4 linked regions of the Homo sapiens genome follow. The protein of the gene in region 1 interacts with the protein of each later gene in a biochemical or structural test. Each region holds a gene or a part of one and is shown in the gene's direction. Other genes may lie near its edges.

Evidence for each region.
Region 2: the proteins of BCL11A (region 1) and NR2E3 form a complex in vitro, tested with the Homo sapiens proteins (one study listed by BioGRID).
Region 3: the proteins of BCL11A (region 1) and NR2F1 form a complex in vitro, tested with the Homo sapiens proteins (2 studies listed by BioGRID).
Region 4: the proteins of BCL11A (region 1) and EZH2 form a complex in vitro, tested with the Homo sapiens proteins (one study listed by BioGRID).

The regions. Positions count from the first base shown.
Region 1 is NC_000002.12:60,466,479-60,473,849, reverse strand, and holds part of BCL11A (BCL11 transcription factor A), read left to right. Parts: intron 1-5,016; coding exon 5,017-5,118; intron 5,119-7,371. UniProt on the Homo sapiens protein: Transcription factor. Associated with the BAF SWI/SNF chromatin remodeling complex. Binds to the 5'-TGACCA-3' sequence motif in regulatory regions of target genes, including a distal promoter of the HBG1 hemoglobin subunit gamma-1 gene.
Region 2 is NC_000015.10:71,805,579-71,813,553, forward strand, and holds the start of NR2E3 (photoreceptor-specific nuclear receptor), read left to right. Parts: upstream 1-4,975; 5' UTR 4,976-5,165; coding exon 5,166-5,283; intron 5,284-5,904; coding exon 5,905-6,031; intron 6,032-6,187; coding exon 6,188-6,291; intron 6,292-6,376; coding exon 6,377-6,598; intron 6,599-6,757; coding exon 6,758-6,933; intron 6,934-7,810; coding exon 7,811-7,975. UniProt on the Homo sapiens protein: Orphan nuclear receptor of retinal photoreceptor cells. Transcriptional factor that is an activator of rod development and repressor of cone development.
Region 3 is NC_000005.10:93,577,896-93,586,229, forward strand, and holds the start of NR2F1 (COUP transcription factor 1), read left to right. Parts: upstream 1-5,326; 5' UTR 5,327-7,128; coding exon 7,129-7,591; exon of another isoform or gene 7,592-7,694; intron 7,695-8,334. UniProt on the Homo sapiens protein: Coup (chicken ovalbumin upstream promoter) transcription factor binds to the ovalbumin promoter and, in conjunction with another protein (S300-II) stimulates initiation of transcription. Binds to both direct repeats and palindromes of the 5'-AGGTCA-3' motif.
Region 4 is NC_000007.14:148,825,093-148,832,463, reverse strand, and holds part of EZH2 (histone-lysine N-methyltransferase EZH2), read left to right. Parts: intron 1-2,615; coding exon 2,616-2,736; intron 2,737-3,583; coding exon 3,584-3,724; intron 3,725-5,197; coding exon 5,198-5,300; intron 5,301-5,831; coding exon 5,832-6,010; intron 6,011-7,371. UniProt on the Homo sapiens protein: Polycomb group (PcG) protein. Catalytic subunit of the PRC2/EED-EZH2 complex, which methylates 'Lys-9' (H3K9me) and 'Lys-27' (H3K27me) of histone H3, leading to transcriptional repression of the affected target gene.

The DNA.
Region 1 (7,371 bases):
AGAGAGTGCGATTTTGACAATATCAGAAGGTTAATTAAGAAGTCTGTGAGTGATGATAAAGCTGGCACATTTTCATTACAGATTGACACAACTCAAGTCACAGGCATAGCTAATGTTTGCTCTATAATACTCTGATAAGTCAGAGAATCTAAGTGAGAAGAACTGGTATCTATGGTAAACATAGGGTCAAGAGCTAGATGCGGCTGAATAGAAAGGACATTTACTTTGCAGTTAGGTAAAGAAGCCTCTAGCTCAGACTAGCTGCACTGTTGTTATTTGTGTGGCTTGAACCTAGTAATCGGATTCAGAACTGGAATGGGTTCCTTCAGGGTACTTTACAAACGTTCAGGATGCATTTTAAGTGTAGTCTAGAAGGTGGTACATGGAAGAGCTGAGGGACTTGAGGATTATGGACTGCGAAAGGACTGTAGGTAGTCCTGTATTTTGGCCTGTCACCAATATAGAGACCCCTCCTCATCATAGTGTCATCCATTCTCTTTTTGAAGACCCAGGGTGAAAGAAAGGGGGTCACAGTGTCACGAGATAGCCCATTCCACGTGGGACAGCTCTACTGCTTTTGTGCCTGTCTCACTGAAAAAAAAAAAAAAACAGGGAAATTATCTAAAAACATATGTTTAGGAAATATACACACATTCACACACGTACACAGACACATATGCACACACTCACATATACACACACATGAACACGCTAACACACATGTGCATGCACATGCTAACACATGCACAAGCATACACACACATGCACACAGTCACAATATACACACATGCACATGCTCACAAACACATATGCATGCACACGCTAACACACATATGTACACATAAATGCTTGCAAACACACACACACGTACATTTTAGTGAATAGCACACATCTATGTACTCCTGTGGAGAGTCCTGTGGTTTTAATACCTGTTAAAGTTGGGCTCCCAAAGCAGTCATTAAACGTGTTGGAATGATGCTTTTTGCTTAGCTGTTTTGGCACATTTGGAAATCTGCAGTATTACCTGTTGATTAGTAGACAGTAATGTGGCTGTATTACACACCCAGTGATTAGTTTCAGAAACAAATAGCATGTTAATAGTCAAGGAATCTTTGAGATGTTCTTGAGGAAACCAAAAAACTTGATTTAATGACTTAAATTCCAGGAACATCCCACTGGGCTTAGAGCTCTTTGTCAAAAGTTGGTACCCAATATATGTAGAAATGTAAAGTGACCAAATGTATAACATTAAATCAAAGCCATTCCCAGTTTGCTGCATATTTTTTAATGAAACCTGAAAAATAAGAGTCACTATTTTTAAATTCAGCCATAAGGAAACTTTGCAACCTAATAATGTGTAAGGCATTTCTGAGGCCCCAAGTGGAAATACTGGGTCTAGAGAGACCTTTATGAAATAGAACAGGTTGAAACACCTTCCACCAGAAAAGTGTAAGACATTTGAAAAAAGATTGAGTCAGAAAAGGGAAATGTGTCCCATTTGAGAGACCAGAAAGGGAAACAAGAGTCCAGTTCCTGCTGTGTCCGTGCAGTTGCCACAGCTGCGTTCGCTGACATGTCGGCTTTAATGGAAGCAGTGAGGACACAATCTGTCTGGCACAAGCTGGTTTGGGTGTTGTCTCATGCTAAGAAGGCCCTGGACCTGATGGAGAGCCTGGACCTGTTCCCTGTCCTTATCAATGACAGACGGAGGGTGGAACCTGAATTTCCTAATGGAGGGATCCTTAGGGATTCCCTAAGCTTAATTTGTTTTTGACTGTTCCAGTCCTAAAGGAGGTGGGTCCTGGACAGGAGGGAAAACAGCCTCATGGCCCATGGGTCTCTGCCCAGGGAATTTCAAAGCTTCCAGCGTTCATACTTCCCTTACCCTAAGACAGCAGTGCTGATTCAGCTTGAGTGTGCATGAGAATCACCTGGAGAATTTATTCAACATAGAAGGCTGCTTCCCCACCCTCAATTTCTGATTCAGTAAGTCTGAGGTGGTGCCCAAGAATTTGCATTTTGAACAAACTCCCAGGTGATGCTGATCGGGGGTGGGCCTGGGTCTGCGCTGTGAGAATCACTTGCCTAAGAGCACTAACAAAGAAAAAAAGAGGACATAACTAGATCACCCACTTCCTAGCCAGCAACCAGAGCCCATCTCTGGCTGGGGAGAATGAAAGCGAAGGTGGGAAAAGAAGAGGCCCTCAACCAGGGGCAGCTCCTTTTCCCCACCTTGGCCTGGGAAGGCAGAGCTGCTCCTCGAGTTTGACGCTCAGAAGCATTAATTGTGATACTTTACTTTGCCTAAGCCGTGATGAAATAATTGAAGGCATCATAGCAAGAAGTTAAGCCCTAGGGAGGCTATTAACAATTTAGCATTTCCAGTTCATGTGGGAATGTCGATTTTACTTACCAAAGAGAATATTATGGATGTGTTTAGTGGAAGAAGCAGCAGAATCAGCTGGGGTCCCCAGTTGGCTTTGCTTTGACCCTCTTCCTGAAGGAAGATAAATGCAAGGGTGAGTCTCACAAAGACAGTGTGCTTTTTTTCTAAAGTAAATAGCTTCTTAGGCTGATAGAAATGTTTTTAGCTGTCTAATTCTGCAGGGGAAGCAGAGGTAGAGGGTGAACACAGCAAAGGTGAGGCCAGGAGGCCCAGGCAGCAGAGCAGGCCTTGTTTTCCAATTGTGAGACCAAGTCAGTTCATTGGCACCTTTCGAAAGCCCCATGTAGCGCTGCTGGGCTGGACCCTCCCCCAAGACGGTTAAGTACTGCTTAATGGATCAGTAGAAACAGGACCTTCTTGTTGGGCAGTGAAGACCACGGCAGGAGCAGCAGGGGGGAAGAGACAAATTCCCAGGAAAGACCACTGGATCAGGAGTCAGGAGATTAATTCTAATCTTCACATTGTGGTTAATCATCAGTGTAGCCATGGGCAAGTCACTTAATTTCTCATGGCCTCAGTTTCCCCATCTGTAAAATGAAGGGACAGACTTGATGATAGCTAGGGTTTTTTACAACTTAGAAAACAAAAACAAAAACAAAAACAAAAACAAACTATGCTGCCAGATAGTCAGATGAGACCTCACTTTGCCACACGGCCAGACACTGTAGAGATCTGGTCCTGCCGTCAGCTTGTTTAGGGCTAATGGGTTTGTAGACAAGTTTGCCAACAAGAGATTCATGCGAGGGGCTAGGCATGGATTAGGTTAGCAGTTCTCCCATTTCTTGCTGGAGGCCTGCTGAAGCACTTCAGGGTCTCTTCCCAGAGTAAGTGGCAGAGAATTTGAAATTTGATACTCCCCATACAAGGATCCAAGTACCTGTTGCGTTTATGCTGGGATCACAGAGATACCTGGGTTGCCTGTGTTTCCTAAGAAAAGGATGTCTGTTTTGGCAGCAAACTTAGTGAACGGCTGAGGCAAAAACAAGTGCAAAGATGGATTCTCAGATTTCTCATTGAAAAATACCATGACAAAATCTGTAGTAATTTTACGCCACACTCTCAATTCACTTGACGTAAACAGTCAAATGTAGACATACTTGTTTGTTAAGTCCGGTCTTCCTGCTTGTGTTGGTTCACTTTGTGGTGTTTATTTTGTTTTGGGTCAGAGAGGATGAAATGTCTCTGTAGATGTTCTCAGGCTAGGTGGTGCTTCCACCAGGGCTTCCCTCTGCAGGCCTGGTAACAGCAGACCTATGCTGTCTGTGTAAGAGCCTTCTCAGCAGCACACCATCGTTACCCACCAGGCTCCTTGCGAAAGGAAATCTTGTCCCAACTGCCTTGGCTGTGCTTGGCAGTGTGCTCTATATAAGGAGAACAGGATGTATTTTACACTTGAGACCTGCTATCCTAGAGTACAACAACAACACTTCTAAGTGCTCTTAATATTAAGCTAATGGAAAACATACTGTTTGTTCACCATCAAAGTCTGTTTTTCTTGTCTCCCGCCCTCCCCAATCATCATGAACTCCAAACCTCTAGAACACACAGAGCGTCTCCTGCACCATCTATCCTCCAGTCTGTCTCAAGATGGACAGCTACATGGTTAGTTAGCTAGAGGAGGACTTGGAAAAGCTAGGCACTTACCACATAAACCGTAAAATCCCCAGATTGCACAAACCAAATTTTCCTCTTCTCAAAAAAATCTCAGTGCTACAAATGTTTCATTGACTATTAGATTCATTTTATTAGTGTGAGAAGTCACTTGTCTTCACCAGAGTACAACAAAGTGCAGTAAAATGGTGAAGATGGGTCAGGGTTTCTGGGTGCTGGCATTATTGGAATGCTGGTTCTTTCCTTGTCATTTAATGGTCAAAGTTATTTGGACCCCAGAAGTCTAATCTTTATCTTCCATTGCTTTGTATTGTGAGAAGCCACATCTGTGTAAGGTTTCCAGTTGACAGGATTCTAGAGTATGGCCCAGCTCAGTCCAGAAATGCCCAGGTTTCCCCTATCACTGAAGGCGCTATCATAAATATAGCATGGGAAGAGGGGGGCAGAGGGACAGAGAAAGCAAAGTGGGACTCTGTCCCATAAAAAACGATTCACAAATCTACTCATTTCCTATCAGCATTTTGCTTTTTGCTTGGGTTTGTCTATAAAGTAAAGTTAATGTATGCATGTAAACCAGCCTTGCAGATAAAATCCCCCCATGTTTCCAGGCTACCCACAATATTACCAGTTTTCCCCTTGCTGCTTACACATCTTCTTTCCACAAGACAATAATCAAACAACAACAAATAAATAAGCAAATGAACCAAAGACCACCTCTCCCCTTTCCTAAAACAAACCCTTTCACTTTTGTCAAAAAGACCGAAATTGAAAACAAAACAGAAACTCTGGGAAATAACTCACCACTCTTCTTTTGTTTCAGGCCTTGGGCCTGTTAACTATCTGCAAGGCTGTTGTAATGATGTTGTAATCTATTTTAATGGAATTGAAATGTGATATCCTGTGGTTTATGATGCACGTTGTTTGTAGCTGTAGTGCTTGATTTTGGGTTTCTTTCACAGATAAACTTCTGCACTGGAGGGGCCTCTCCTCCCCTCGTTCTGCACATGGAGCTCTAATCCCCACGCCTGGGATGAGTGCAGAATATGCCCCGCAGGGTATTTGTAAGTTGAGCCTTATTTCTTCTACAAATGTCCATGTGTATAGAGATGAGAATTTCTGGAAATTGCCCTTACTTTTTAAGTACTGAAGGAGTTACTTCCAAAATAGATTGTCATATGTATTATTCCATTACTCACTTGGCAGCCGCTCCCCACTCCACTCAGCCCCAGAGGGACTTCTTCCCTCCCCTTTTTCTTTCCTCACTGGAGGCTGGGAGCTGATAGTAGCTCATCCCTGTGGGTCTTCTCCCCAGGGTCTTGTCTTGCTCCGTGGCTAGTGATTGAAGATGCCTGTGCCTCTGGAGCCCATTTTATTACTGGACATTCACTCCTGTGGCCTCATTTAGGACTTTGGGTATAGTCCATGGCACACATCTTTAGCCAAGGCCAGAATCAAAAGGAGTCAGTTTAGGGTTATTCCAGAGTTATTCCAATGCATATTCCTTATGTATTTACATGTGTATTTGAACATAGTATATGTTGTATATTCATGCCCACACATAATTTTGACTAATTTTTCTCCTGGTTTTAGAGAAAAATGCACATCATTGTAGTTAAAATGTGAAGGCTCTACTATCACCACCACCACCACCACCATCACCACCACCACCACAACCACCACTGCCACCATCACCACCACCACCACAACCACCACCATCACTACCACCACCACCATCACCACCAGTACCATCACCACCATCACCACCACTACCACCACCACCACCATCACCACCACCACCATTACCACCACCATCACTACCACCACCACCATCACCACCAGTACCATCACCACCACCACCATCACTACCACCACCACCACCACCACCATTACCACCACCATCACTACCACCACCACCATCACCACCAGTACCATCACCACCAGTAGCATCACCACCACCACCACCATCACCATCACCACCAGTACCATCACCACCAGTACCATCACCATCAACACCACCATCTCCACCACCACCATTACCACCACCATCACTACCACCACCACCATCACCACCAGTACCATCACCACCAGTACCATCACCACCACCACCACCATCACCATCACCACCAGTACCATCACCATCATCACCACCATCACCACCACCACCATTACCACCACCATCACTACCACCACCACCACCATCACCACCACCACCATTACCACCACCATCACTACCACCACCACCATCACCAGTACCATCACCATCACCATCACCACCAGTACCATCACCATCATCACCACCATCACCACCACCACCATTACCACCACCATCACCACCACCACCATTACCACCACCATCACTACCACCACCACCATCACCAGTACCATCACCATCACCATCACCACCAGTACCATCACCATCATCACCACCATCACCACCACCACCATTACCACCACCATCACTACCACCACCACCACCATCACCACCACCACCATTACCACCACCATCACTACCACCACCACCACCATCACCACCACCACCATTACCACCACCATCACTACCACCACCACCATCACCAGTACCATCACCGCCATCACCACCACCATCACCACCACCACCACCACCATCACCACCACCACCACCACCATCACCACCAACACCACCATCACCACCACCACCACCACTACCACCACCATCATCACCACCACCACCACCACCACCACTGCCACCACCATTTACTTGTTCAAGTGAGCTTTTATAGTAGGGACCATTTTATGAAACTTAAATTTGTCCATTTATACAAATGTTTTCTGAAAGATACTGTTTTAGAAAATAATACAGTTTGCTTCTCTGTGTAGGAACACATGGTATGAATCATGCATGGCTAAAAGGTTAGGGGGTGGGCAGTGATTCCACCCTAAACACAAAAAAGCAGGTTCAAGAAGAAAAGAAGTGTGACATCTAATTTTTATTTGAAAGTAAATGAAAAATAACCTGCTGTGGAAAGAAAAAAAAAGAAAAGGAAAAAGGTCATGGAGAGAGAATAACAAAGAGCAAGATGCCAGAGTTAAGGCTCTAAGGGGGACTGTTTTTAGATGGGAGGGAGATGACACTTACCCATCTTGTAAATGGTATCTGAAGAGCAGGGCATGCACCCTGAGACCAGATTCAAAGCCAGTTGTTTATTTTTGTTAACTCCTAGGTAATCCTAGGTAACAAAGAGTTATTGTGTGAATTTCATAAGCCCTCAGGTCCTGAGGGCTGGGTGGTTCAGGGGTTAAAAGCACCTCATCTGCTCCCTTCCCCCAAGCTGGGC
Region 2 (7,975 bases), on another chromosome or scaffold:
GTGAAGACACTTGGGGGTGGGGGGCAGGAATTCGGGGGGTGGGCAGGAATTTGTGGGGGTGGGTGACTGTTTAAGAAATAAATCCTGGGCCAGGCATGGTGACAGCACTTTGGGAAGCTGAGGCAGAAGGATCACTTGAGCCCAGGAGTTCGAGACCAGCCTGGGCAAGACAGGGAGACCCCATCTCTATGAAAAACTAAAAAGTTAGCCAGGCATGGTGGTGTGCACCTGTAGTCCCAGCTACTTGGAAGGCTGAGGCGAGAGGATCTCTTGAGCCCAGGAGACTGAGGCTGCAGTGAGCTGTGATCTCGCCACTGAACTCCAGCTTATGTGACAGAGCAAGACCCTGTCTCAAAAAGAGAAAGAGAGAAAAAAAGAAAAGAAGGAAAAGGAAGGAAGGAAAGAAAGAAAAAATAAATCCTGGGGCCAGGTGCAGTGGCTCACGCCTGTAATCCTAGCACTTTGGGAGGCCGAGGTGGGTGGATCACCTGAGGTCAGAAGTTCAAGACCAGCCTGGCCAAGATGGTGAAACCCCATCTCTACTAAAAATACAAAAATTAGCCGGGCATAGTGGCGGGCGCCTATAATCCCAGCTTCTCGGGACGCTGAGGCAGGAGAATTGCTTGAACCCAGGAGGCAGAGGTTGCAGTGAGCCAAGATCACCCCACTGCACTTCCAGCCTGGGCGACAGAGCAAGACTCCGTCTCAAAAAAAATAAAATAAGGAAAAAAGAGATCCTGGAAGATTTGTTCCCAGCACCCAGTATTGTGGCTGAGACATGCCCCAGACAAGAAGCCCAGAGAGCCGCTCCCCCTAGAGAGGCTAGAACAGGGGATTCCTTGCCAGGGCCCTGAGGATGCAGAGGGAGGTCAGTCCTGCTGCCCCTATCACGCCTTGTTATTCCACCCCCAACCGGCCCAGACCTCCTGGGAGTCAGAGGAAGTTGCTGACCTGTCCCCTGGGGGAATAATTGTATTAGTGATAAGGTGGCCTCTGGCAGCTTAGTCAGCAGATTCAGGGCTTTGGGCTGAGTAATCCTTTGGCGTCTGCCCCAGCAGCTGGTGATCACAGATCGGGGAGACCCCCCCAACCCCCAGGCCCTGCTGGGCTTTGGCTTCCATTCCCCCAGCACAGTGCATAGGGCACAGCTCTGGCTGGCCTGACCTGCCAAAGAACCCAGGGCCAGGCTCAGAGGGGATTTTGGCTGGCATCCACGTGATGGAGTGACAGAATACAGTCAAAATCAACAGCGTAAAAATGGGCCGGTCAAACACTGCAGGGGGCTTTCATTTAGATGGGACTGGGTTTCTTGTGTGGCCTGGCTTGTTTTGTTTTTGCCATTTTAGGTAATACATACCCACTACAGAATACAGGGAAATACAGACAAGGTTGAAAACAGATTCTCTGTCCATTAAGTGCCTTGGGATCCTCATCCCCAGCTAACCCGAAACTCTAAGCCTGTTCCCTGGAATCTTCCATCTGGATGGAGGAGAGAAAGTTGACCTGGAGTGAGGTTCAATGTAAGGACAAGATCTGCACCCGGAGAAGCTCTCTCTCGGAGAGCACAGGCGGCCTGAGGAGTCAAAACAGGTGGCCTGTGGAGTCAGCACAGGCAGCCTGGAGGAGGTGAGCCCTGGACAGGCCTTCAGGGATGGGAAGGGTCTGGGCAGAAGGAGCAGGAGGGCCAAAGCCAGCCCCGCTCAGCGGCCTCCCCTGCGTGTGCTGCCCCTGAGAGAAGGAAGCGCTCTCCTCCAGTAGCCCTGCCCCCGCTTCCTCCCTTCCATCTGCCCTTTCCGCTTCAGTTCACCTCCTTTAATCCCACCACAACCGCCCAATGGGACACCATCCTACTCATTCCAGAGAGCATGAAACTGAGAGGCAGAATAACTTCCCCAAGCCCACACAGCCAGGCTCTGAGAGGAGCGGTGCTGGCCCAAGCCTGCCCTTAAGCCCGGGCTGCAGGCCGGAGCAGCCCCTTCTCTCCTGCCGGCTGCCGCCCCCTCAAGCCTGCAGGTGTCTCTCCGGAGATGCTGGGCATGGGGCAGGGTTTGAGGTACACCCACCTCCACCTCTCTTCCTGGCTCTTTCTCCTCTGTAGCTCCCATTTTAAAAGGAACTGCATTCCTAACATATTTTTCTTTAAATATCTAAATTCGTTGGGGAAAAAAATCTTTCCTTAATGTTACCCTCCCTGCCACCCCTCAGCCCCGTCTCCTTCCCTCACAGCCACGCTCCCTCCCCACAACTAGGCCTCCTGAATCATGCTCCCTCCCAGGGCACCAGCTCCTCCGGCTGCTGCTGAAACCCAATGAGGCAGCTGCCCCTCCTGGGAGGGTGTCCTGGTGCAAAGCTGAGTGCAGTGCCAAGCACAGTTTGAAATCCTCATCTGCATCCCCAGCCTCCTCCACCACTCACTAGCTGTGTGGCCTGAAGCAAATTACTTAACTTCTCTGACTCTGTTTTTCCTCACCCATGAGTTGAGGCTAGTAAGGACAGCTCCTTTACAAGGCTGCTGTGAGGTTTGAAGGATCTGTGTAAGAACTTGGCATGCTTCCTTTCTGCATGACACGGAAGGAACACTTGCATGGTGACACCACCATTGCTGATTCCTCCCCGTCCCTGGCTCCCGCGACAGCGCAGCGCTGTCCTGAGTTTCCGTCTTGTCTCTGATGTGCCTTTGTCATCAGCTTGTCCTTGGCTCCAGCCACCAGAGTCTGAGACCCTTGAGCTCAGCCTTAGGCATTTTCAAACCTGCACGCATTTGCTCCAGGCGGCCCCCCAGTCCTGGGGTTACTACCTCTGTGCAGATAAATTGGGGGTGGTTTGGTCTGGGGCATGTGGAGCTGGACTCCACGGTGGAACTGATATGAAGTGGCCCTGGAAGCCGTGAGTGTGTGTGAAACTGCCCGAGGAGAGAGCGGGAAGGGCTGCTGGGACCAGTCTCTGGGTACATGGAGGTGATGACAAGTTCAAGGCAAAGACCCGTGTTCCAGAAGAGATGGGAAAGAGCGGCTTCGGGAAGGAGGGAGTGGCCAGTCAAATCCATGGAGGATGGCCTCAGCTTCAGTCTTAGGTGGAGCTGGAGACCTTGTCCTGAGGGGCTTTTTGGCAGAGGAGGCAGGGAGGGGTGAGGACGGAGGAGAGGAGAACAGGTGAGAGCACCCAGCCCGGTGGCCTCGATCTTCTGAGGCCCCAGAAAGCGGATTACCCTGCAAAGCCCCTCGAGCTGACTTCCCAAATCCCTAATTGTGCTTCTCTGTCACAGGGAGGGTTAACCCCACTTACATAAGGGCCAGGCCCCGCCCCCTGTCCCCTTAACTCCATGATCCTTCTGGAAGCTTCACGCTCCGCCCGCTTCCCCTTGGGGTCTAAGGCTGGACCAACCCCACCCCAGCTCATCCTGAGGTGAGCTCTGGTCTGCTGGGGACAAGTGGTCCCCTCCAGGACAACATGGGCTTTCAGCTCTGTCCCGGGCAGGGAGGGGGCTGGCAAGTGGGCCTGGGGGTGGAGGAGCAGGCAAGAAAAGGCTGCTGAGTGTGACCTTCTCAGTAACCCCAAGAATATAACAATATCAGCTGCACACACCATTTATTAGGTTCTTACTGAGTACCAGGCTCTGAAACACATTTCCTGAACCATTGTCTTTAGTTCCCCAACTACACCATAGGACAGGTGCTCTTCTCATCCTGTTTTACAGGTGAGGAACTGAAGTTTGGACAGATTGAGTCACTTTCTCAGGGACACATGGCTGGCCGGTGATGGAGAAGGTACTTGAACCTGGGTCTGCCTCTGCTCTCTCCACACTCCCTTGCGGGGGCCCGGGGCTTACTATAAGGCAAGGATGTAAGACAAGTTCCTCCTTCCCTCTCCTTCCCACAGGAGCAGAGGCATCGCTGGGCTGGAGGTGGGAAGGATGGACCTGGGAGCAGCGCAGGGGGCTGGTGTGGCAAGAGGCAGGCGGAGCTGTGAGGCCGAGTTCGGGGGGAAGGGGAGGACTCCTGAGAGCCCGTGGCCAGGCTCAAGGTGGCTGTGTCCTCACTGGCTCTAGTCCTGCAGGCCTGGCTCTCCAGAGGAGCCTGCCAGCTCCTCTTCTGCCCCCTCACAGGCCTGAAGGAGACCCTCCAGATGGGGATCCAGGCCTCTTTCCTCCAGGCCAGCCTCAGACCCTACGGGGGACGGTTCTGGGAACGTCCTCTGTGCCAGGTGTCTGGGGACTGCTAGCCTTCTGGGGGGGCTGGATCCTCAAATCGTGAGCCCCAAGCAGTCCCTTTCCAAGGGATTGGAGTGAGAACCTCGTGGGGCAGAGCCAGATCTACCTAGGACCCAAGGGGAGTGTCTCAGGCAGGACCCCCACAGGCAAAGACACACACACTGGCCACACACTTGCCTTCGGATGTGTGCCAAGCAGCTCAAAAGGATTTAAAGTCCAGCCAGGTGGGGTGGCTCACACCTGTAATCCCAGCACTTTGGGAGGCTGAGGTGGGCAGATCACTTGAGGTCATGAGTTCGAGACCAGCCTGGCCAACATGGCAAAACCCCATCTCTACTACAAATACAAAAAAAATTAGCCGAGCGTGGTGGCAGGTGCCTGTAATCCCACCTGATTGGGAGGCTGAGGCAGGATAATCGCTTGAACCCAGGAGGCAGAGGCTGCAGTGAGCCGAGACCATGCTACTGCACTCCAGCCTGGGTGGCACAGCGAGACTCCGTATCAAAACAAAGAAAAAGATTTAAAGTCCTTGGGAGAGGTGGAGTCCACACCTCTCTTCAAGATGTGGCATGAAATGGTGAACAGCTGAGCACACAGGGCAGGAGGGCCCCGGGGGACCTTGGGCAGCCCGGGAACCAGCATGGGGTAGCAGGACTGACCGGCTCCCGGGGCACCTTGGTAATGCTGCAGGTGTGGCCAGTTGATCCCCTGTGGAGACAGTAAAGATTAAGAGGATCATAAACTGCGTCCAGCGGCTGCCCCGGGAGAAATCTCCTCAAGCCAGAGCCTGTGCTGTGAGGGGCTTCGGGACCTTGGGGCAGCTCCTGAGTTCAGACAGAGTTCAGGAAGGGAGACAGGGGCACAGAGAGACAGAGGTTCATGGACTGAGGCAAAGGCTGGGCCAGGCTCAGCAACCCAGGCCTCCCGCAGGCAGGCAGAGGCTGCCCTGTAACCCATGGAGACCAGACCAACAGCTCTGATGAGCTCCACAGTGGCTGCAGCTGCGCCTGCAGCTGGGGCTGCCTCCAGGAAGGAGTCTCCAGGCAGATGGGGCCTGGGGGAGGATCCCACAGGTATGGCTTCTCCTGGAGGTAGGGTTGGGTCTGGGCCCTTGGGGAGCAGGGTAAGGGCCAGAGGTTCGCAGGGACCATGGAAGGAGCCAGAACAACTCAGACCCAGCCCCGCCGGCTGTGGGCAAGGGTGGGGTAGCCTGTGGGTAAACCCAGAATCCTAGAAACACGGTGGGGCGGGGATGGGGGTTGGGGGCGGGCAGGCTGCAGAGCCAGGACAGGACAGCCTAGCCGATGGGGAAGGAAAGAACAGAGAAGCGCCCTTAGGGCTTAACAGCACAGAGGTCCCTAGTGGCGTTGACAAGAATGTTTCTGTGGGATGATGGAGCCTGAAGCCACCCACAGAGAAGGGATGGGAGCTGGGAAAGTGGAGCTAGGGCTCGGACTCTTGCTGAAAATTGGCCATTGAGGGAGGAGAGAGGGCAAGGAATGGGGGTGGGGGCTGGGGTGTGGATGCACAGTGAGGGAGACACTTCTCCAGATGGAAGAGTCACGCGTGGGTTCGTTCAAATGCGGGTGAGCGGGGCCTGAGGACTGGGAAAGGGACCCGAGGGAAGGAGGGGAGCGTGCAGCCCTGCCCCGGCCCAGCCCTGCCCTGGCCCAGCCCTGCCCCCTGCCCCTCAGGCGTGAGCCCCTCGCTCCAGTGCCGCGTGTGCGGAGACAGCAGCAGCGGGAAGCACTATGGCATCTATGCCTGCAACGGCTGCAGCGGCTTCTTCAAGAGGAGCGTACGGCGGAGGCTCATCTACAGGTGAGTGCGGTGGGCCCTGCTGGGCGTCTGCCCCTGAGGGGTTCTGGAGGGGTGAGGGGGTGCTCAGGGGAAGAGGGGCTTGGGCAAAAATGTCCAAGCCCATGGCTCAGGGCATGGGAGGGACACTGACCCCTGGGGTCTCCTCTTCACCTGCAGGTGCCAGGTGGGGGCAGGGATGTGCCCCGTGGACAAGGCCCACCGCAACCAGTGCCAGGCCTGCCGGCTGAAGAAGTGCCTGCAGGCGGGGATGAACCAGGACGGTGAGGCGGGGGCTGGCCCGGGGGGAGGTGACAAGAAATGGGCAGCGGGACTGGCGTGTCGTCCTGACCCTTCCTGCCTCCCCAGCCGTGCAGAACGAGCGCCAGCCGCGAAGCACAGCCCAGGTCCACCTGGACAGCATGGAGTCCAACACTGAGTCCCGGCCGGAGTCCCTGGTGGCTCCCCCGGCCCCGGCAGGGCGCAGCCCACGGGGCCCCACACCCATGTCTGCAGCCAGAGCCCTGGGCCACCACTTCATGGCCAGCCTTATAACAGCTGAAACCTGTGCTAAGCTGGAGCCAGAGGATGGTGAGTGGGAGAGCAGCTGAGGGCACAGCAGGGCTTGGCTTCCCGGGTCACAGCAGGGCTGCAGCGCCTTGCCTTGATCCTCCCTCCCCCGGGGCTCCAAGTACTCCCTGCCACCTCCCGAGAAGCAGGCGCTAAGATCACAACCTCCTCCTCCAACAGCTGATGAGAATATTGATGTCACCAGCAATGACCCTGAGTTCCCCTCCTCTCCATACTCCTCTTCCTCCCCCTGCGGCCTGGACAGCATCCATGAGACCTCGGCTCGCCTACTCTTCATGGCCGTCAAGTGGGCCAAGAACCTGCCTGTGTTCTCCAGCCTGCCCTTCCGGGATCAGGTACCTACCGGCCTGCCTGCTGGGGAGCTAGGCTGGGCTGGGGTCAGGCGGCCCACTCGAGTCAACCAGACAGGGCACACACATCCCCACGCCAGTATGAATGCACACAGCTTGGATGGTGATGGCTGGGGACACACATACCTCTGATTCAGCGATGGCTGGGGTGCATCTCAGGGATGGTGACGGTGGGGGTGCATGCATCTCTGGCACAGGGATGATGGTCGGGGTGCACACCTAGGAGATGATGATGGCTAGGGACCTACAGGGCCCAGGGTCTTCTTAAGTTCTGGAAGACCCTCAGGCCCTGCAGACATTCTGTGGGTAACAAGTGACCTGCACACCCTGAACAGGCTGAGTGGCTGACTCTAGGCCCCCTTGGAGCACAAGTGCCTACGACTTCAGGGCTTGCATTTTAGTTCAATCTCTCCAGCTCTGGGCCATCCCTCTCGGCTTCTAATGGGCAAGCAGATCTTTCAGGAAAACCAGGAGGAGAGGCATGAGGAGGGTTTGAGGCCCTCAGCCAGTCTGTGTGCTGGGGTGGAGCAACTCAGAAGAGTCAGGCCACACCACTTGAATACACTCAACTTAGGACACTCATGAGGCATGTCTCTGAGGCTGCCCAACTTCCAATGGCTCTGGGCGTTCCTAAATGTCCCAGCTGCAGCTCTGGATGGAACCCAGTGTCTCAGATGATAGGCAGCTGAGCCGGATGGTGCCAAATCCCAGAGCTCTGAGCCTCTGGCTGATGTCAGGAGAGCATTCTCGGGTCCCAGGACAGCACTTCCATTCCTTGGGTGCCTGAGATGGTGGCAGAGGCTCCAGACTGAGCCAGAGAAGCTGTGTGTCTGCCATAACAGGCACCCCTGTCTGAGCACAGGTGATCCTGCTGGAAGAGGCGTGGAGTGAACTCTTTCTCCTCGGGGCCATCCAGTGGTCTCTGCCTCTGGACAGCTGTCCTCTGCTGGCACCGCCCGAGGCCTCTGCTGCCGGTGGTGCCCAGGGCCGGCTCACGCTGGCCAGCATGGAGACGCGTGTCCTGCAG
Region 3 (8,334 bases), on another chromosome or scaffold:
AAGAGGTATAAAAGAGAATTTCCTACACATATCTGATCATTTGTAGGGTCCCATGGCTCTTGAACTAGATTTAGAAAATGTTTTTACAAGGCCACTTTTGTTCAGTGTGACTTACCAAAAAGCTAAAATGAATGACTTTCGGGAGACCAAGATATCAATATCAAAAAAAGCCCATAGAATTAGTGAAAAATGGTTCAGCCTCGTGGTAAGAAAGATATGGAGGGAGAGGATATGTTAACAGACAGACAGTCCGCTTAGATCCGGATTCTGGGGCCTGGAACGCAAGTCAACCCTGAATGTGCAGCCAAACCGATCTGTGCTTCTCTTCCTCTCTCACCAGATCACAATTTACTGGGTGGCAAGCTGGGAGAGATCAAGCTTTGTCTGGTATGTCTTTTAAAACGTGATTAACGCTGAGCTTGATGCTAGCAGCCCGCAAGGGGTACTATAGGCTTACAGCCTAATTCCTTTCCCCAAGCGGAGCGGTACCTTCTCATCGCCTTTTTGGGGAACTACACTAAAGATCTAGTGTGCACTGAACAGGTCTGTGGGAACCAGGAAGGCAGAGGAAGGAAGGGAGGCTCCCGGGAGCCCAGGCCCCGGCAAGGCCCTTACAGTTCCCAGACCCGCCAAACCGAAAGAGAGACCCTGGAGAGGGCTGAGCCCCTGTGGGCCTGGCTGGAGGCCTCGGGTAGGATGCTGAGGCAAGAGCCACAGCGGTCCGAGTCCAAGAACCACGTCCAGACTCAGCTTAAGGTTCCGAGGTGAAAGGCCTGGCCTAGAAGGGAGGGAGAGAGATCTGAAGAAGAGGGGGTGGGTGAAAGAAACGTGGACACTACAACTGCGTTTTCTGCTCCTGCAGCTGAGCGTGCCTGGACAAGTATGTAGGATTTCCCAATTGGGGGATCTAAGTACTCTCGAAAACTATGATCAGTTTTCTATTAGGTACCCTACCCCACAACAACAGATATCATTATTTCCTGGTTGAGTGTGGGTCGCATTAGGCCCAGGACAAGTGTGCCAATTGGGACCAGTATCAAAAGAGAGCCTTGAAGAAAGAAAGAAAGGGCTTCCCAGGAACTAAGCTGACCTCTCAGTGCCTCTAGGGAAGACATTTTTGCTGGAGGCAGGGCTATGAGCACAAGTGGGGCGCCCTGTGGGTGTGCAACCGCGGTCGGGGAGCACAGGCTTCCGAAGAGAAACTGAGCTCTAAGTGCCACTCAGGCCGGACGAGTTCCAGAGGGGGACAGCGCCCTCCTCGAAAAGCCTTGGTTTCTCCCCGCCCCCTCTTGTGACAGAAAGTTGGCAAGGATGCCCCGTAGGAGTGCGAGCCGCTCCCCTCCTCCGAAAAGCCGCGGGCTTCCGCTGCTCCGGGCATCACCACCAACAGCTTCCCACTCCCACCCCTGGGACTAGGACAGGGGACTTCACCCTCCTCCTTCCTTCCGGAGGAGCCCGCGGCTTCGCCTGAGGCCTCGCGGGCCCAACTTCTCCCCACCGCTAGGGTCACGCCGGGTCCCAGGGGCCTCTTTCAAGTTTGAAAGCTCTGTGGGGGCACGGAGAGCCCACAGTAAGGATGGGTGGGCGCCTCTGCTCCCGGGCAGGCTCAGCTGTCATCCCGTCTCGCCTTGGCCCTCACCTACAGGGCCTGACCCCGGGCCAGCCCAGCTAGGCAAGGCCTCCTCGCTTCCGAGACCCCCCAGCCCCCGGGTGCAGTCCCCAGCATCGGCTGCCCCCGCCCCCCGCGCGCCCTCTGACGCAAACGCACGCCCCTGCCCCGCACGGAGGAAAGCGCTCTTGTTGGTTTTAATTGAGCCTCTTCCTTTCAACACACCCCCTCTGTCCCCACCCCTGGGAGGCGACCCCCTCCCCGCCCCCAGCCGGCTGGCAGCGGCGCAGGGAGTCTGGCTCGGCTGCTAGGCTGCGAATCCCGGTGCTCTCTCGCCGCCGCCGCAGGTTGTCTGCTCGGGAGAGCGGCTCGATGTCCCTTTTAATCCGCTGACACTATCGCCCACATCAGACAGGCAGCCATCGATCGCGTTACATTAGGGGATGGCGTTACAAACGGCGTCCGCAGGTGGGCGGCTGCAGCCAAGCTCGCCAGGTTCAGGCCGTAACCAGGCAAGGCGCGGGCACAAGGGCCAGCCGGGCCGGACTCTGCAGCCGGCTCCACCGCGGGTCGCGCTCGGCACCAGCAGGAACAGCCGGGCCGGTGTTAAACGTGCGGGTCCCCGTCCTCCGCCCGGGCATCCGTTTCCCGCCTAGGAGAGAGAGGGAATAGCGGGTGGGGGTGGGAGCAGCCTGTTTTGAATGTGGATTGCTGCTCGCCTGGCACGATCCTCCCCTCCAAGGAGGCGCGGCGGCCGCGATCCTCGCCTTAGCGCTACGGCGAGACAGAGGCCGAGCGAGGGCAACTCCCGAGCAGGCCCCGAAGAAAGTTCTCCTCGTCCCGCCCTGGCTGCCTAGACTCTGCTCTCGGCCTGCGGAGGCCGTGCGAGCCAAGACTGCCTCCCGGCCCTGCCCGTTACCAACCCCAAGTTCAAGAGAAACGACAACCATTATGTTACTTGCCTGGTGAGGCAGGATTTGGCCGAGTCTCGTTTCTGGTGCCCACGACGCACGGTCCAGGGTCCGAGGGCGGCTGGGCCGGCGGACTGGGCATCCAGTGTGCCTGCGGTGCCCTGGCGCTCGCTGTCGCTGGTCTCCCACTCCCTTCGTCTCTCTCCGCGTTCTCCTTCCCTCGCCCTATCTCCCTCTCTCCGCCTGCTGCCTCTGCCCTCGACTCCCTGCCTCTGACTGTATGGGGAGTACGATTTAGAATCTGTACATAGAAAGGTTTTCTTTTCTTTCTTTTCTTTTGGTCTATTTTAATCGTGTTCGTTTCACCTTTTAACTGACCAGAAGACGGGAGCGCGTTTGCGCGTTTATTTGGGCATAGGGACGAGGGCAAGGAGCCCCTGCTACCCCCAGTCGCCTCCTCGCCATCAGCTGCGTACAATGGGCCACCGCTCGCGGAGTGCATTGACAGTTCTCCATTATTCGAGCTGGAGGGGCTGTGGGGCAGGCACGGGAAAACCTTTTATTCTGCTCTTTAAAATCATCGCTCGTCACTAAGCGGTCGCCGACTCCCGACTTGTAGGCTGGAGAGACCAGGAAGCGCAAAACGTCCCCCAAACACGCAGTGCTTCCCAAACCCCTCCCTGGTGAGACTTAAAGTGAGAACGAGTATTAAAAAACAAACCCTACCTCTGTCAATACAGCGTGGCCATTTACTTCCACCTTTACCTGAGGGCGTGTTGGCGCTAGGAATGCTCGAGCTGAGACAAACTTTTACGCCCTCGCGAGTCGAGGGGCGGGCGGGCGAGCGCGGCTCCCACCCCCGGCGGCGGCAGCGGCGGCTTTGTCACTCCGCGCGGCTCCGCGCCCGCCTGAGCCTGCCTAGGGGAGCGATCTCAAAACGAGGGGGGTGCGAGTATGCGATTGGAGAATATGTAACTAATAGAAGTATCATTTTCCCCCAGTACGATCTTTCAAGGAAAAAAAAATCCATTGAAAGAATTTTCAAAGTGCTGTCTTCGTTTGGAGAAAAGGCACAGGCTGCCTGCGGGGAGGGGAGGAGGGACTCGGCTGTGTGCCGCCCGGGAGCGGCTCCCGTCCGCTAGGTGGCAGCCGGAGCCAGCGATTCCTGCAAGCCCCGCCGCGGGACCCGCTCCTCCCGCCTGCCCCTCCTCCCGCGACCAATCACCTTCAGGATTCAGGAATCGGGGTCTCGGTCTCTCTCTCTCTCTCTCTCTCTCTCTCTCTCTCTCTCTCTCTCTCTCTCTCTCTCTCTCTCTCTCCCCCTCTCCCTCTCCCTCTCCCTCTCCTCTCTCCCTCTCCCTCTCCCTCTCCCTCTCCCTCTCCCTCTCCCTCTCCCTCTCGTCTCTCTCTCTCTCTCTCTCCTCTCTCTCTCTCTCTCCTCTCTCTCTCTCTCCTCTCTCCTCTCTCTCTCGGTCTCTCTCTCTCTCTCTGGGTCTCTCTCTCTCTCTCTCTCTCTGGGTCTCTCTCTCTCTCCTCTCTCTCTGGGTCTCTCTCTCTCTCCTCTCTCTCTCTCTCCCCTCTCCTCTCTTCTCTCTCTCTCTCTCTCAATATCTCGCGCGCTCTCCTCTCTCCTCTCTTTCCTTTCCTCTCCTCTCTCTCTGTCTCTCTCTCTCCTCCTCCCCCTTTTCTCTCTCCCTCTCCGCCTCCCCCCCTCTCCATCTTCTCGTTTGTTTGCTCTTTTCCCGGGACTGACTTGGCCACACTAATCTCCCCCCACCCTGCAACAATATGGGGACTTACTACTGTTTTATTAATAATGATTGAAGCATTGTTGGAGTTTGGAACAGCCAGGTGATAAAAAAAAAAAAAAAGAAGAAGGAAAAATTGGATTGATTGGAAAGTTTATTTTTAAAATCATCTTTGGGATAAATAGGAACCCTTGATTCCGATCGAATTTGTGGCAATAGCTGCAAATTCCAGGAGTGTGCTTTGTCATCATTAAACCTTTTAAACCAAGGTATACTTTGGATTAAAAAATAGGGAGATCCTACCCTGTTTCTACTTGTTTCTAAAAAGGATATAAAATGAGCAGAATCCAGACTTGGATTGTGCTTATATGTGAGAGAAGAAAACAATCCAAATCCAGTATATTTCACAAATCATTAAAATGGTGGGGGTTTCATTCCCATTAAAAATTTTTCCAAACATTTTCAATGACACTCTCTTCACGCTCATAAAATCTAATTTTAAAAACTTTTCAGAAGAAATCAAAATAATTTCCCTCTAATTCTCCTTTTGCCCATCGCTAGGCGTTCTCCCCCTCGTCATCCCTTCCCCCTCTGGGGTGTGAGCGTAAGTGTGTGTGTGTGTATGTGTGTGTGTGTGTGACCATAGACGACCCATACTAATCAGGTCTCAGAGTAAATAGCAGCGCAGGGCGATCTCAATGTAAATTGCGCTTGTCAGAAACACACCCCCCTCCCTCACTTTCTCTCCTCCTCCCCACACCATCCCAGTCTGTAGGTAGCTAAGCGGGGGGGGGAGAAAGAAAGCAAAAGAGGAGGGGGGAGGGGCTCTCCAACCAATGGCGTGCAGGAGGCTTGGCTAACCTTAGCCTCCCATTTTCTCTCCCCCCGATTCAGGGCTCTGACCAGTCAGTCGCCTTTGATTATCAGTTGCCAGCAGCCCTTCTCTTGGCTCCTTGACACGAGCTCCATATAAGGCAGCGATCTCCATAGAAACGTGTCAGTTTCAATAGTAGTGTCAAAGTTCACTATATACAGACATTCGCGCAGATCCCCCTTTCGGAAACATTGCTCTGCGAGTCCTCCCGTTTAAACGCATTCAATTTTTGGGTCTCTCTCTCTCTCTCTCTCTCTCTTCTTCTCTTCTCTCTCTCTCTCTCTCTCCTCTCTCTCTCTCCTCTTTCTCCCCCCTCTCTCCCTCCTCTCCTCTCTCTCTCCTCTCTTCTCTGAACCTCTCTTCTCTTTCTCTTTTCTTACATATTCTACTAGTTGTTTTCCCCTTCTTCTTCTCCTTTCTCTCCTTTTTCTCCCTCCTCCTTGTCTCTTTTACTCCATTCCTGCAGAAGAGAGAGGGCTAAACTTAAAGAAAAAAAAAAGGAGGAGGAGGAGGAGGAGGCACCCCCTTCGTATTCTTCTTATCGTTATTTTATACATATATGATTTTTTTTGGAGGGAGGGTGTTGGTTGCCGGCTGAAGAGCACTTATTTAAAATACTAAAAAAAGAACATTTTTGGGCGATCTCCAGGGTTTTTTTAACTAGCTCTGTGTGTTATAGCAGAAGAAGCAGAAGAAGGAGCAAGAAAGAGGAAAAGAAGAGGATTATTTATTCGACCTACTTTGGATGTCTCTCTCGCTTTTCCTTTTTCCTTTTTTTGGCAATTATTTTCTTCTGATTTTTATTTTTTCTATTTCGCTGTGATTTCGTCGCCGGCGTGAATTATCCCGTATTTTTCTCCCCCTTCCGTCACCTCCCGAAAGAAGAAGGCAGCGAGAGCCCGGCGCCACCGGCACAACAAAAAGAGCAAAGTGTGTGATCTTCCTCGCCGGCTGCCTCCCGCTCTCCAGCGCTGCCTTCCTGAATGGCTGGCTGCGTCCGGCCCTGGACCTGGCCCCCCGACACCCGCGCGCCCTGATCGCCGGCGGCAGCCTCGCCCAGCGCCCTGCTCGGCTCACCGCGCTCCCCGCACTCCCGAGCCCGGCGAGGGCTCCCGCCGGGACAGCGGCGGCGCCGCGGGCGGCCCCGGCCTCCGCTCGCGCTCCGGCTGCGGCCCCGACTCCTGCTCGGACTCCGGCCCGGGTCCCGGCTCCTCCAGCGGCGCTCGCCGCAGCAGCTCCGGCGGCAGCTCCAGCGGCGCCTGCAGCCGCGACCTCCTCCTCCTCCGCCGCCGCCGCCGCCTCCGCCCTCGCCGGCTTCCTCTATGTCGGCTCAGCCCGCGCGCTGCGCGTAGCCCGAGCGGCCGGCGGGCGGGCGCCCGGCGCGGGTGAGCGACTGTGTGTGCGAGTGTGTGTGTGCGCGGGGGTGCGGGCGAGGCGGAGGGCGAGTGTGTGCGCGCGCCGTGGCCCATGCCCGCCGCCCCCGGCGCTGCGCCCCGCGCCGCTCCCGGCTGCCGCCTGTGCCATTTCTGATTTTGCAACTTGGGGAAGAAGAAAAAAGCGAGAGAAGGGAGCTTGCTCGCCGGGGGGTGGGGAGGGGGGAAGGAGAGCGCGGCCCCCCCAGGAACGGAGCGCGGGGGGAGCGGGCGAGGGGAGCAGGGGTGTTGGGGGGGGAGCCTGAGAGCCTGGGGGGGCTGCAAAAAGAGAGAAAGAAAACAGCAGGAACCACAACAAAACGCCAGCAGGGCGGGCGGGCGCGCAGCAGCAGCGGGGCGGCCGAGGCAGTAGCGGCGGCAGCGGCGGCGGCGGCGGAGGCAGCGGCCGGTGTCCGGCTCGGGCTCGGCTCCTGCGACCCCGGGGCGCCCGGCGGGCCCCCCGCCCCCTCCCCCTCCCCCCTTCCCCTTCCCCTTCCCCTCCCAGCGCGCCCGCGCGCCCCGCGGCCCTCGGCGAGCAGCTCGGCTCCCCCCAGCGCTCCCCGGGCCCAAAGATATGGCAATGGTAGTTAGCAGCTGGCGAGATCCGCAGGACGACGTGGCCGGGGGCAACCCCGGCGGCCCCAACCCCGCAGCGCAGGCGGCCCGCGGCGGCGGCGGCGGCGCCGGCGAGCAGCAGCAGCAGGCGGGCTCGGGCGCGCCGCACACGCCGCAGACCCCGGGCCAGCCCGGAGCGCCCGCCACCCCCGGCACGGCGGGGGACAAGGGCCAGGGCCCGCCCGGTTCGGGCCAGAGCCAGCAGCACATCGAGTGCGTGGTGTGCGGGGACAAGTCGAGCGGCAAGCACTACGGCCAATTCACCTGCGAGGGCTGCAAAAGTTTCTTCAAGAGGAGCGTCCGCAGGAACTTAACTTACACATGCCGTGCCAACAGGAACTGTCCCATCGACCAGCACCACCGCAACCAGTGCCAATACTGCCGCCTCAAGAAGTGCCTCAAAGTGGGCATGAGGCGGGAAGGTGAATATTTCTTCTCTGCTTCTCTCCCCGCGCTTCGCCCGCCTCCCTGGCTCTTTCTTTCTTTCTCGCCCGGGTGGTTGCTGTGTGGGGCTGGGGCTCCTGTGGTCCCGGCCCGTCCCAGCTTTCCTTCTCCCGGCTGCCTTCCTCCCCCGGCGTCTCCCCCCGCCCTCCCCAGCTCGCTGCCGCTGCCTCCCCCTCCCGGCCTGCGCTCATCTCCCCGGCTCCCCCACCCCGCCCGCTGCCTGCTCAGGATTGTGTCCCTGAGATCGTGAGCTGTGGCTTAAAATCCCCTTCTTCCCTCTGTCTTGGATGTGCTCGGTGTGTGTCTCTTTCCCGCGTGTGCGTGAGGCTGCTTGGGGCTGTGCTGGCATGAACTTGGGGAGGGGTGCTTATTTCCCCCAGAAAACTCTGTTTCTGTGGTTTTTTTTCATTCCACTTTTCCCTCCACCTCTTCATACCCTTTATTTAAAATGGGGGAGGGCTGGGGGCTGGAGTACCCTGAACCATAGATTCATTGCTGCCATCATCCTTTTGGAAGCTTAGCTCGGAAAAAGAGGAGTGAGATTTATTGCACTTGTAGGTCTAATTAGGGGGGAAGGGGGGCTTCTGGCCCGTTCACTGGTTCCCTCTCTTCTTCACGGAGCTGGGGCCGCCTCCTCCAGAGCTGTGGCCTTGTTTTCACCCCTCTACTTTGAAAGGAAAGTTTGTGACTGAACCGTGCTTTCATAGTTGTGTCATTTTTT
Region 4 (7,371 bases), on another chromosome or scaffold:
GTGCAGTATTACTCTTTTCCTATACTCTCCAAAGGAAAAGTGTTAAGCAGTAACCATACCTAGGATTAAAAATATTTAAAAGATGGGCTGGGCATTGTGGCTCATGCCTGTAATCCCAGCACTTTGGGAGGCTGAGGCAGATGGATTACTTGAGTCTGGGAATTGGAGATCCACCTGGGCAATATGGCAAAACGCTGTGTCCTCAAAACAAAAGTTAGCTGGGTGTGGCGCATGTCTGTAGTCCCAAGCTACTCAGGAGGCTGAGGTGGAAGGATGGCTTGAGGGAGGCGGAGGTTGTAGTGAGCTGAGATTGTGCCATTGTACTCTAGCTTGGGTGACAGCCAGACCCTGTCTGAAAAAAACAAAAGGAATGAAGCTTATAGTTCTTATCCTTAAAAAAGTCAGTGTCCTGTAATCTAAGTCTGACTTTGAGTTTTTGTTAATTGAGAACTTATTATTTAAAACAACTTTAGGTAGCATTTTATTGTGATAATGTACATTATGGTGTAAAATTCATAGGGCTTGTGAAACATGAGCTGAAACATAGTTCCATTGCTAACTCTGACGCAGCAGCTTTTGTAATAAAATGCTAAAGAGAAACTGAAGCATGTGTTCTTGACTTGTATTGCTAAATAAAAAATATATAGTTGTATTACTTAATTGATATATAAAGTGGGAAGGCTAATAAAATGTTGATAGAAGTCCTTGGTGAACCTGCTTTGGGGAAGTTTTTAGTAACTTTTATACTTTGTACAGTAGAGTCTCAACTTCAGTTACTCTTCTGTAGTTGTATAAATTTGAGTGTAGTTTGAGAATTACATTGCATGACCTTGAGGGAAGTTTCATGTTTTCACAGACTGAAATTCTGGAAGAATATATTATTTAAATTTGTCATTAATTTATGAATCACCCATGGATTTTGCTGGTCTAGCCTGGGTGACAGAGCCAGACCCTGTCTGATTTTGCTGACCAAAGCAGATTAGGCACACAATCTTTATTGTAACTAAGATACGTTTTGGAGAGCAGGATGATGTGGATATGATTGAAAAGACAAAATATCTAAGTGTCACTTGATTTTGGCTTAGATAGAAAGAAATCAACCCCTAGTTTAAATGAGATTAGTGCAAGTGAAATGAGATGAAAACAGGCCTCTAGTGTGTACATAAGCTTGAATTTGAATATATGAATACATTAAAACCTGCATTTTAATTATATGCTCCTTTTATCCCACTTTTTCTTTTCCTTGTCTGTCTACGGTACTTGTTATCTTTATGAACTCTCCAGTTGTCCTAAATTTGTTACCTAGGGATTATTTGAGATTTTTTCCACATTCCCTGGCTGCTACTAGTCCTGTGTGTGGCCTTTCCCAGCGTGTTCTTACCTGTGGGCCATGATCATAGTGCTGGGCCGAGCCTACGCCATCTCACCCTTTAAAGAGCTTCTGTGTCCTCCCAGTCAGGCATAGCCAGTCCATTCTGCTTATTATAATTATCTTTCTAAAATTCTGTTTTCAACCAATACTCTTTTCAAAGGCCTCTTAAGACTTAGACTTGTCTTCACTTGGAATTAGTCTCTTTAAACATGTACTTCAGAACTGTCCAGTCTTTATCTATAACTGCTGTCATTTTTATTCTTCATTGAAAATGCTCTTCCTCCTATGAATGTCAACTTTCTTTACCTTGTATGCTTAACTATTCTATTCTGTCTTAACTTTTGTTTGATTGGCTATTCTTCTTTCTTCTCTGTTGTCTTCCAAAGCTTGATAAAAACTCATCTATCATCTTTACTAGCACTGTCAACTTTGATATTCATCTCATTCATCTAAATATTGAAATATTTTATGTTTTTGTAGAATGTTCTTATTTTACATATAAGTACATATCCTTTTGGCATAAACTTTAATGGACTATCAATACTCTGTATCCCTAGAATTTTATTATATTGGATGTCTTACATTTTTTTTTCATTTTACCTTAAACTATTACAAGTTAATGGCTGTTTTAATAACTGGATCATCAAGTGGAGTTTGGGAGTCTTAGGGTAGTTTTTTGGTATGGGTCTTTATAGTTGATCTTGATACACCATATTTCATCATCCTCTATTAACATCTAAAGTGCGCGTTAAAACTGATGATGGCTGGGCATGGTGGCTCATGGTGTCAGACACCTGTTATCCCAGCACTTTGGGAGCCAAGGCGGGTGGATCACTTGAGCTCAGGAGTTCGAGACCAGCCTGGGCAGCATAGTGAGACACTCGTCTCAATTAAAAAACAAAAACAGAAAAACAGACGATGTCTTCTCATAATCTAGAGCATCTTTTTCTTTCTTAGAGGTATGTACAATAATGGTGGTAAGTTTTAATGATTGATGACAGACTAAGTGCATTATTTTTTCTAGAATTAAATTTTTTTTCTGTCAACAGTTTTCTCAGATATGCTTATTGGTGAGAGGGGTCTTTTATTTTTTGATAAATTTTAGAGTTTGCTCTCTGACTAGTATTTTAAATCTGGAGAACTGGGTAAAGACATGTACACATGAAAAAAAGGTTGTATTTTAGTTATTTCACATTTGATACTTAGAGTAAACCTGCTTTTTAAATATATTTTTTTCTTTTAGGTGGAAGATGAAACTGTTTTACATAACATTCCTTATATGGGAGATGAAGTTTTAGATCAGGATGGTACTTTCATTGAAGAACTAATAAAAAATTATGATGGGAAAGTACACGGGGATAGAGGTGAGCCATATGCTTCTTCTCTTGGAAAAAGGGGCTAAAGAATTGAGAGACACTTTTGTTTATGAAGCATATAGGGCATGAGAAAAATTTTAATATTAAAATTAAGTTTTGCACTGAACTATAAGGGACTGAACCTGGGCCCAGGCCTAAGATTTTCAGTATTTTCCCTAACTATTTTTGGGAAAATTAGTTAGGAGGATCATGTTTGCCACCTGATAATTATGCATAGTTGGTTATAACATAATGGCAATAACATGTAAATTAAATAGAACTTGAGTGTATGTAGATTTTAAGATTCTTTAGTAGTAAAATTAATTAGGATTGGGGCTCTGCTTCTGTGGCATATAGGGGCTCCAACAGCCCCTACTACTAAAAAATACCGCTCCTCTAGGGACTACAGTACCTGAAATTCAATCCTTAGAGTCATGGTTTCAGTTTTTTGTGTCCAGGAGGCCCTGTTAAAGTGTCTGAAAGGATAATATTTGTAATATCATCATCCATTGTCATTATCAGCAGAAAGCAGGGTCTGAAATGATCAGTTAAAGGACAGATCCATTGTTTGGGAGGAGGCCAAAGCCACAATCAGTTCCTAGAAGATTCAGTTTTCTACTAGAAAGTTTTGGGGAGGGGCCATTCTACAGAAAGTAGCAGGTATTAAAGATAAGTTTGCTTCCTTTGCCTAACACCAGTCCTGAAAATGATCTTATCTTTTCCTCCCCTCATTTCAATAATAATGTTTTAGTGCCAGTTACTAGGCTATGCCTGTTTTGTCCAAGTAGAAAAAGGATACATAAACTTTTGACATTATTGCTTCTCCTGTGTGTTTCTGACATTTGATGCGTTTCAGAATGTGGGTTTATAAATGATGAAATTTTTGTGGAGTTGGTGAATGCCCTTGGTCAATATAATGATGATGACGATGATGATGATGGAGACGATCCTGAAGAAAGAGAAGAAAAGCAGAAAGATCTGGAGGATCACCGAGATGGTATGCCTGATTATTAGGATTCTGTGTAGCCATTACAGCTTTCTTTCAAAAACAGTAGAAAGAGTAGAAATAGGGCTTAGTTTCTTCTTTCTCTTTTTCTTTCTTTGTTAAATATCACATTGATAGCAGTATAATCAAAATTAACATATTATGGCCAGGTAGGGTGGCTAACTCTGTAATCCTAGCACTTGGGAGGCTAAGGTGGGCAGATTGCTTGAGCCCAGGAGTTCAAGACCAACCTGGGCAACATAGTGAGACCCCATCTCTACTAAAAAGTAAAAAAATGAGACAGGGTGATTGCTTGAGCCCAGGAGGTGTAGGCTGCATTGAGCTGTGATTGTGCCACTGCACAGTCTGGCTGGGTGACAGAGTGAGACCTTGCCTTAAAAAAGAAAAAAAAAAGCATAATACTTGCAACATTATCTTCACTTGAGTATCTTTGTTTCCTTTGGCTAGCAAAGAACGTAATTTTTTGTGTGCTTCACTGGGCATCATTATAATATATAACATTGATATTCACCGTGTACAAGTTGTGTACTAATCACTTCTTATGCACCAGCTCACTTAATCCTCATAATGGCTTCATGAGATGGATGTTATTATCAGATCCATTTTCTTTTTCGAGACGGAGTCTCGCTCTGTCGCCCAGGCTAGAGTACAGTGGCCCCATCTCAGCTTACTGCAAGCTTCGCCTCCTGGGTTCACGCCATTCTCCTGCCTCAGCCTCCCGAGTAGCTGGGACTATAGGCACCTGCCACCACACCCAGCTAATTTTTTGTATTTTTTAGTAGAGACGGGGTTTCACCGTGTTAGCCAGGATGGTCTCTATCTCCTGACCTCGTGATCCACCTGCCTCGGCCTCCCAAAGTGCTAGGATTACAGGCGTGAGCCACTGCGCCCCACCTGTCAGATCCATTTTCTATTTGAGGGGATAGATTTAGAGAGGTTAAGTAACTTATAAGATTACACTATTGGGAAGAAACAGAGTCAATAGTTGGTGTTCTCTACTTGGCAAAGCTCATGCTAAGGCAGCATAGAATAGAATAATTTGGCGGGTGAAATAGCAATTTCTAAGAAGCGTATTTCAAAAAAGAGAAAATAACAAAAAGGTACCTTATTGACCTTATTGATCATCTAGTTCAGCTCCTTCATTTTACAGATGAGTAAACAGACCCAAGAGGTAAAGTGATCACTCTAAGTCACAAAATCAGTTAGTAGCAGAGCTGGGAGTAGAACCTAGGTTTTCTGCTTCCCAGTGCTCTTAAAGCTTTTCATATTTGAATTTGAATTTTGTTTTTGACTGACTGGCATTCCACAGACATGTAAAGTATGTGAGAAGTAAGTAAAACACAAAATAGAGATGATTTCTTAGAAAATCAGCTTTGTTATAGAGACATAATTGGGTAGAGAAAATGAAAGATCAAAAACTTGTTTACTTCCATTCTTTTTTTCCTTTCATATTCTCCTGTTTAGATAAAGAAAGCCGCCCACCTCGGAAATTTCCTTCTGATAAAATTTTTGAAGCCATTTCCTCAATGTTTCCAGATAAGGGCACAGCAGAAGAACTAAAGGAAAAGTAAGAATTTGTTCCTTTGAGGCAATCTTGCCCTGTATGGTATGTAACTCACCATTTTGGTTTATTACAAATGGAATCAATGTAGCGGATGAGCCACTACACTTTGTTTACAGTGTTTGCAAGATACTTGAAGCAACATGTGTACTTGTGGTACTCTGCATTACAAAATATTTCCTGTAGATAGAATAAATACATATGTATAATTTATATATACACATAAACACACACATATACATAAAATTTACAGTAGTACATTTACAGGAAAATTATCTGGATACTGGTAGAAATTTGATGTTTAGTTAAAACTAATATAATATCCTTTTCCATGATATATTTGAATCATATCGATGAATTTGATTCTTGATAACACCATGCACAATATTTAGTTGGCTCTTTATCTAAATAGAGCCATTCCTTTATGTTTTAGGCAAGATAAACATCAAAAGTAACACATGGAAACCTTTTAGAAACTGTTTTCAAAAAAGTGATTTTTGTTTCATGTTTACTTAAATTTTTCTTGGTTAATGTCAGATATAAAGAACTCACCGAACAGCAGCTCCCAGGCGCACTTCCTCCTGAATGTACCCCCAACATAGATGGACCAAATGCTAAATCTGTTCAGAGAGAGCAAAGCTTACACTCCTTTCATACGCTTTTCTGTAGGCGATGTTTTAAATATGACTGCTTCCTACATCGTAAGTGCAATTATTGTACGTTTTCATTTTCTATCTTTGTTGTGGAATTATGTTTTAAAGCAGCTTGGAGAGTGCTATCATTTATTACAACTAGAATTTATCATTTAATCTTGTAGTTACTTTGACAAATATCTTTAGATCTCAGTATTATTATTTTTACTTTGTTGCTTGAGGATTGCTCTGAAATCTTTTGCATGTATTTCATTTGGACTACTATTTTCCACTAACATGGAATTCAGGTCAGTGATTTTTTTTTTTTTCCCCCGTAAGTGCTAACTAAGCAGTTGTTTTACAATAAAACTATTATTATGAACTGGTAGCCCAGAGCAACATTGCTGATATTGATGAATAAATTGTGTTAAATAAGAAATTGGCCAAAAAAATGTTCAGGTAAGTGCTTGTCGATTTAATGTAATTTTATTTTATTTTATTTTATTTTTTTGCCCTCTGGGTAAGTTGTTTTTTAAAAATACCTGCATTTGAATACAAGTAAAACGTAAAATGTTCTTAGTGAAAATGTAAGTATGGTATATACAAAAATACTTTTTTCCTCTGGCATTTCTAGGGAATGTGGTTTCTTAGTAAATTTTCCTGGTAATTGAAACTTCTAAGCACAGTTTAAAAGCGTCAACTACTTTTGAGGCACATATTTTGAAAATGTATTTAATACTTCCTAATTTTCCTAGAGTAGTTTGCTTATTATAGTTTGGTTTTTCCTATATTGTATTTTAGTACGTCTGTCTATGGCATGGTAATTTCTTTAGGGGCTTTGACCCATTGTAAAATCGTTTTCCCCTGTACTCAACGGCCCCACATTGCTTTGTTGTTTTGAGTTCCTGTGCCTACCATTGACAGATTTATTCCTCCTCGTTCACCAATGATAACGTCTTTTTAAGCTTGCCCAAGCAGCTGTACCTCACCTCCTCCTAAGTGTTTGCTCTACTTGTTTTTGCTGCAGCTAATAATGTGTTGAGTGATGTAATACATTGGTCTGGAAATGTTAAGTTTTGTTTTTGTGTGTGACATATTAGTGGTTTAGTTATCTTAAAATAGAAAAACTTGAAGTAGATTTTTAGAATTATCATTATATTGTTACCTCCTTGCTCTTGTTCTAACTCCTCATCTAGTTTAAATTGATTTGGTAGTTTTAAAAATTCGTAGTAAGTCATCCATTTGTTGCTTCAGCCATTGGACAGTTAAGCCCTTGAAATAGTTGTCTTGAATTTCATTTTAATTTCCCTTTACACACCATGAATTTATGAATTACATCGAGTTTTTATTAAGACTATTGGACATTGTATGTAGATATCACTATAGCAAAAGAATTGAGTGGAAGCACTATTTTGGAGTCGCTGAAAGGTCCTTCCAATTTGTTG